2 separate regions of the Homo sapiens genome follow, and region 2 is reported to be linked to region 1. The links are microRNA targets in miRTarBase. Many come from high-throughput screens and were not tested one by one. Region 1 holds a microRNA gene; the other region holds the end of a gene's coding sequence.
What was found. The annotated mature microRNA hsa-miR-4526 reads GCUGACAGCAGGGCUGGCCGCU and lies in region 1 at 2,233-2,254, opposite strand. An mRNA with a match to its seed (bases 2 to 7 or 8) in the 3' UTR can be bound and repressed. Matches are read on the target gene's strand: a 7mer-m8 pairs with bases 2 to 8, a 7mer-A1 pairs with bases 2 to 7 and ends in A, and an 8mer does both.

Region 2: the mRNA of TRIM41 is a reported target of hsa-miR-4526. Seed matches in the 3' UTR shown: 7mer-m8 at 622-628.

What each region holds. Positions count from the first base shown.
Region 1 is chr18:13,610,302-13,613,420 of GRCh38, reverse strand. It overlaps MIR4526 (microRNA 4526), which reads right to left and starts at 2,307; the gene lies at 2,221-2,307. The region is part of intron 4 of LDLRAD4 (low density lipoprotein receptor class A domain containing 4); the gene reads right to left. RefSeq lists enhancers at 1-147, 568-797.
Region 2 is chr5:181,234,181-181,237,265 of GRCh38, forward strand. TRIM41 (tripartite motif containing 41) reads left to right here. Exons shown (of 6, transcript NM_033549.5): 6 at 1-1,628. The coding sequence ends at 595. RACK1 (receptor for activated C kinase 1) reads right to left here. Exons shown (of 8, transcript NM_006098.5): 8 at 2,717-2,862. The coding sequence ends at 2,797. Among named protein-coding and RNA genes, the nearest start is that of SNORD96A, 6.2 kb to the right of the region's middle. RefSeq lists an enhancer at 1,947-2,026.

The DNA.
Region 1 (3,119 bases):
CCTCCACCTCCACATTATTAATTTAGGAAAGTGCATCAGAAAAAAAACACAGCTGCACATGGAATGGAACCTTCATTTCCACAGGGGAGAGTGGTGGCTTCTGAGGCTCTCATCCCACAGCCAGTCTGTCTGTCTCTCACTTTCTTTGGCTCTCTATCTCTCAGAGTCACAGTTCTCCTTCCTAATAGCTCCTGTCACTACATGGATGACCTAAGAAAGTGTTCAATGAACCAGCCACATCCTGAGAAATACCTTTTCTTTAAAATGCAGTTTTCAGCTCATGAGGGTGAAGAAAAAGGAATTATTAACAAGTAGCAGAATTTCCAGGGGAGGTCTCAGCCTTATATACAGACATTTGAAAAAAACAAAACTCCAAAGCAACAAACTGTGTACTCATGCATAACACCTCCAACAGGAACAAACTAATTCCAGGCTTGAAAGAAGATGAAAAAGCCTGACATGCATCTTCCTAAAGGGAGTCCCACCCGGAAATGTTCTGAGTTGACAGACCCCTCTTAGGTAGAAAGAAACTTCTTGAGAAAGAGCTTCTCCTCTTCTCAGCTCTGTCCTCAGACCAAACTCCAAGAAGAACCACAGCAAACCCGAAAGAGCATGCATCATCCATAGCAGTTCTTGGGAAATGTACCTTTTTTTAAGAACAGGTCTTTGAACTGAGCCTCCTTCAGTGTGCTGTTGTTCAGGTGGTCACTGGACATAATCAGGTCCTCTGCAAGTGGGAGTCCAACTGTGACGCAGCCCCCCCACGTTCAAAGCATCCCTTCAGCTTCCGGCAATCTCCTCTCCAGGCAGCTCAGAGCTGCAGTTATAGCTGGCATGGGGTGTGGGAGAGTGTGTGAGCGTGGAGGGGGGGGGGGTGTGTTTCTGTCTGCCTCGTTCACTCTCTCTCTACTGTATCAGCAGGGCCCACCCCAGGTGCTAGACTCAAATGCTGTGGCTCCGACCGCAGACTGTGGCTACCAATTATCAACTGCCATCAACAGAAACCAGGAGCTCTGCGGCAGGAAGCCGGCCGTGTCACCGAGCAGAGAATAAGTCCGGGGTCTCCGATCCTGAGACCAGCTGTACACCCAGGGCACTACTGTTTACAGCAACGTCTATCAGTGAGCAGTCTGCACTTCTCAGGTTTGGCCTCACACCTGGACGTGTCACACACACAGGCAAGCAGAACGCAGCTAGACGGCTCATCTTGTCACACTGCGTTCAGTAATCTTTTCAACAGGCAAATATCAAACCAGTCCAGACAGAAAGGAGGAAATCTGCAAGTCTCACACAATACTCCTTCCCTTGATCTCTGCTGGAAGCTTTCAGTGTGGAAGGACCGGAGAGGGCGCTTACCAAGGCAGGACACGCGACAGGCGGGACGCTCACGTTAGGCTCGCGTGCTTCTCCCCTGCAGATCCGCTCCCAGAGCGTGCTCGCCCGGCTGGGAGCACCCACAGCGTCCCTCAGGCTGCGAGCCAGGCTGCGGGCTGTCCTCTTCTGGTGCTCCCTCTCCACATCCTCTAACTGATGGGAGCAGCTCCCAGCGGCTCTTGCCACCGAGCTCTGTACTGGCAAGGCGTGAGGTCCTAACCGCAGCAGGAAACACTGCGCGCTCCTTTCCCCCCGGCTCGCTCTTCCCTCTTGGCTCTCCCATTCATTCCCTCTCCCTCTGCCTCACATCATTATTCCCCATGTATGGTAGCACAAAAACACCACAGAGACTCCTTCAAAGTCAGGATGCTCAATGTTCCTAGGCAGTTTTAGTTTATAAGGATCAGAAATTAGAGAACAGAATCCCAGGCAATTCAAACATGAAAGCAGAGACATGTCTCAGGAGGGCGCTTTCTCCTGGTTCATTTTGTTCAAGCACAGTCTCTTTTCCCCGAGGTCTAAACAGTTTGTTTCATCTGAGTGTAAAACATCTCCCGTGCATTCGGATGCCCCCAGGCTGTGTGAAGAAAATTCAGGGCAGGCTGCGAGTCTGTCGCAGTTTTCAGAGAAAATCACGGGGTGGCCGTGGTGGAAAGGGCAGCCTGCCATGGTAACGCTGCAAATAACCCCCACCACAAGCACTGCCGGGAGCCCAGAATAGCCTTTGTTTTTCCTTATTTAGGGTAAATAGGAATGACATGTGGGCCATAACAATAGTTTTGGCTGTAGGAGGAGTTGTCAAAGCAAAACTAAACTCTGTTGGTTACTACCAGCGTTAGAAGCCAGGACAGTGACGTTAGCGGCCAGCCCTGCTGTCAGCCCAGCACGTCACCTGGGGCATGACAGCAGGGACTGGGCCCTGATGTCACCGCAGGGTCCTCCAGGTGGCTAGAAGACATCACTTTCTCATGTTCTCATTTTTGGGGGCAGGGGCAGAAAAGCAACAGAAGAACCACCCAGAAGAGTTTCCAGAAGCTTCACGTGGATAAAAGGAAACCAGAGAATTTCAGCAAGGAAAGTGACCATTTATTAATATACAGCCGCGAGGGAAATCCGGATGGTATGATTCTTCCTGAGCAATTTCCGAATTAAAAATGGAACTCCCCTCCCTGTGCCAGACTTTCCCTGACTTCTCAGAGTCACCCTGCTGGGTGAATGAAGAGGGAGTCACCCTCAGAAAGAGGCAGCTTCAGAAAGAATTAGAAGCTGCAGCCACTTCAAGCCGCCCCTCCCTGGCTACCAGCGCCCCTTGTCCCTGGAGCCCCGAGGCTCCTTGCCACCTGGGCCAGCACTTCCTGGTCAGGCTCAGTCACATGATAGGCTTGCCCTCAAGCCAGGGCCTTAGTGAGGAGCGCTGTAGGCCACTGTACCTGTCTGTTTCTTAAAATTAGGGCTTTGTGGGGCAGGCACGGTGGCTCAAGCCTGTAATCCTAGCACTTTCGGAGGCCGAGGTGGGCGGATCACCTGAGGTCAGGAGTTCAAGACCAGCCTGGTCAACATGGCGAAACCCGTCTCTACTAAAAATACAAAAATTAGCCAGGTGTGGTGGCACACGCCTGTGATCCCAGCTACTCAGGAGGCTGAGGCAGGAGAATTGCTTGCAACTGGGAGGTAGAAGTTGCCATGAGCCAAGATAGGGCCACTTCACTCCAGCCTGGGCGACAGAGTGAGACTCCGTCTCAAAA
Region 2 (3,085 bases), not on the chromosome of region 1:
GACGCTGGACCCTGACACGGCTCACCCGGCCCTGATGCTGTCCCCTGACCGCCGGGGGGTCCGCCTGGCAGAGCGGCGGCAGGAGGTTGCTGACCATCCCAAGCGCTTCTCGGCCGACTGCTGCGTACTGGGGGCCCAGGGCTTCCGCTCCGGCCGGCACTACTGGGAGGTAGAGGTGGGCGGGCGGCGGGGCTGGGCGGTGGGTGCTGCCCGTGAATCAACCCATCATAAGGAAAAGGTGGGCCCTGGGGGTTCCTCCGTGGGCAGCGGGGATGCCAGCTCCTCGCGCCATCACCATCGCCGCCGCCGGCTCCACCTGCCCCAGCAGCCCCTGCTCCAGCGGGAAGTGTGGTGCGTGGGCACCAACGGCAAACGCTATCAGGCCCAGAGCTCCACAGAACAGACGCTGCTGAGCCCCAGTGAGAAACCAAGGCGCTTTGGTGTGTACCTGGACTATGAAGCTGGGCGCCTGGGCTTCTACAACGCAGAGACTCTAGCCCACGTGCACACCTTCTCGGCTGCCTTCCTGGGCGAGCGTGTCTTTCCTTTCTTCCGGGTGCTCTCCAAGGGCACCCGCATCAAGCTCTGCCCTTGATTATCCTGCCACCCGCAGGGGCCCCTCTGTCAGCACTTGGGGGGTGGGTGGTGGAGGGTGGCCCGTAAGTTTGAGGGCTCAAAGGCTCTTCCCACTGCTTGTTACTGTGTTGCTTCCCACTCCCCCTTGACCCCAGGCCCCTGCTTCTCCCTCTAGGAGCCTAAAGAACCCTCCTGGCCTCCAGCTCAGCCTTCTCTCACCTACTATGTCTGTCCAACAGGTCTGCATGGGTCCCTGATAATGAGAACAGCTGCCTGGTCTTCTCTCCCAGTCTGCCTAGCCCAGCCCTGGGACTGGAATTTGAGTAGGGGATGAGGGGAAATTGTAATTTCATTCCTTAACTTCCTTTTCCCCACCCCTGCTCTTCAACCTCTTTATCAGTTCTGAGGCTGGAGGGTTTGGGCAAGGCAACATCCCCATTCCAATTCCATTTTCTGATGCAGATTTTAGCTGAGGGATTTGGAAGCCATTTGGGGAGGCAGGCTGGGCCAAAGGGTAGAGCTGGGTAATAAATGTCTATTCTCCTGGGGAGGAGGGATTCTAAACTTTCCTTCCGTCCTCAATTTCTACCTCCATAGACCGGCCAGAATTTAGCTTCACTTGAGAGAGATCTGGAATGGTCGCCATGATTGAAACCACGCACCATTACATCATCATTACATTAATTACATCAACATAAATTATTTCTTCCCCCTTCCCTTTTCCAGCACTCAACCAAGGAGCAAAGCTCATCCCACCCCACACCCCTCCCAGGTCTGCTCACTGCCAGGCTCCTCTCCCCTTTGTTCAGTGGAGCTGGCTTTTCTCCCAGCCCCTTTCCATGCCTTTCACTCCATTTGGCAAGCTCTGAGGGGGAGCCTGGGGACGGGTTTGGGTCCCCAGGAGGAGAGCCTTGGGTATAATCTATTTTTCTAGGAGCCTCTTGCCTTGTCACTTGCAGCTTTCGCCCTCTGCTTTGATGGCTGAGGTGAACTCATGTTCTTTGGGAAAAGGGAAGGCGTGCTGTGGAAATAAAATGTTTATTTGCTTCTCTTGTGAGGTCTGTTCCTTCAGGTGAGGGTGTAACTCAGGATTTCTTCCTTTGCCGCCCCTGCAGTGAGAAGCCACACAACTGAACTGGTTAGTTGCAGTTAAAGGCATGCTTTGCACCTGTTACCAGGCAGGCTCCTATTTCAACAGGGATGTGGACCCTGCTCCCCATTTTAATATCTTAACCTAACTTACTAACTGTTCAGTCTACTTAGAGATGTTTGCCACACGTAGTTGAAACTGAAGCCAGAAATGCCTCATCACCATTATAAATTGAGGGGAGTAGGAAGTGGAGGGTGCATGTGGGCCTTCAATATGCTGTAGTTGCTTAGCACAGAAAATTGCAAGGGTAGTGGGGTCTCAGCCGCATGTTGAACCATTCCATCCCTGTACTGAGGTTTCTATTGGAAACTGTAATTGTAGTTTAATGGCTCACTTCTGGCCTTTCACAAGGCATCTATCCTCATGAATAAACTGTGTTTGTGTGTAGGGGGATTGAGGGCCAGGTTATAGTAGCAGTTGAAATGTTTAGTAGGGCCAACTTTATGGTTCTATTTATGAATGCTTCCAGACCAACCACCCCAAAACTTTTGACCTGAGGAATAAATTAGTTTTGAATTAAGTTCTTCTGGTGAGAACTGCCTTGCTTAAAGAATTAAAAACCCTTGACTTTCCTCAAAGACCATGTTGACAGAGACTGCTAACATGAAGCTTAAGTTTTCTGAATTATGTTCAAATCTTTAGAGGAATGAGGATTCATCTTCCACTCTTACGTGTCAGGGGTTGGACCTGCGGAGTCTGCTTTTTCTAAAAATTGACTGCAACCACTTTGAAATCAGTTCTTTCCCTCAAGAAGGTTCCCCAGGTTGAAGGTAGGCCCTGATGATCTGCACGTGGTATGTAGGACGCTGATGGGGTTTAAGTTCAGGGAAACTGCTATGTGACTTCTCACAAACATCCCACCTGATGCTACCCCAATCCTGAGAACTTAGACGGACAGCTCCCCTTCAAAGCCTTGTTTACTTAGTCCATACCTTGCATCCAGTTCGCTAGTGCAAACTTAATGTGTAAGCAATGTAGATAGAATGGAGCTTTTTTGCATATAAGAAAAAAAAACCTAAAAGTCAGAAAAGCCAGTTTTTTTTTTATTTGTAAAGCTCTGCCATAAACTTCTAGCGTGTGCCAATGGTCACCTGCCACACTCGCACCAGGTTGTCCGTGTAGCCAGCAAACAGAGTCTGCAGGGAAGAAATGACAGTGACAGGTCAGGCTGGCATAAATTCTGCAGTCTCACTAGATTCAGCCCAAGTGGCTTTTTTTGAGATCCGTCCACCTTGCTCCATTGTCTAGGCTGGAGTGCAGGGGTGCGATCCTGGCTCACTACAGCCTTAAGCCCCTGCAGTTCAAGAGATCCTCCCACCTCAGCCTCCAGTAGGCATGTGCCACAACGCCGGGTAGACT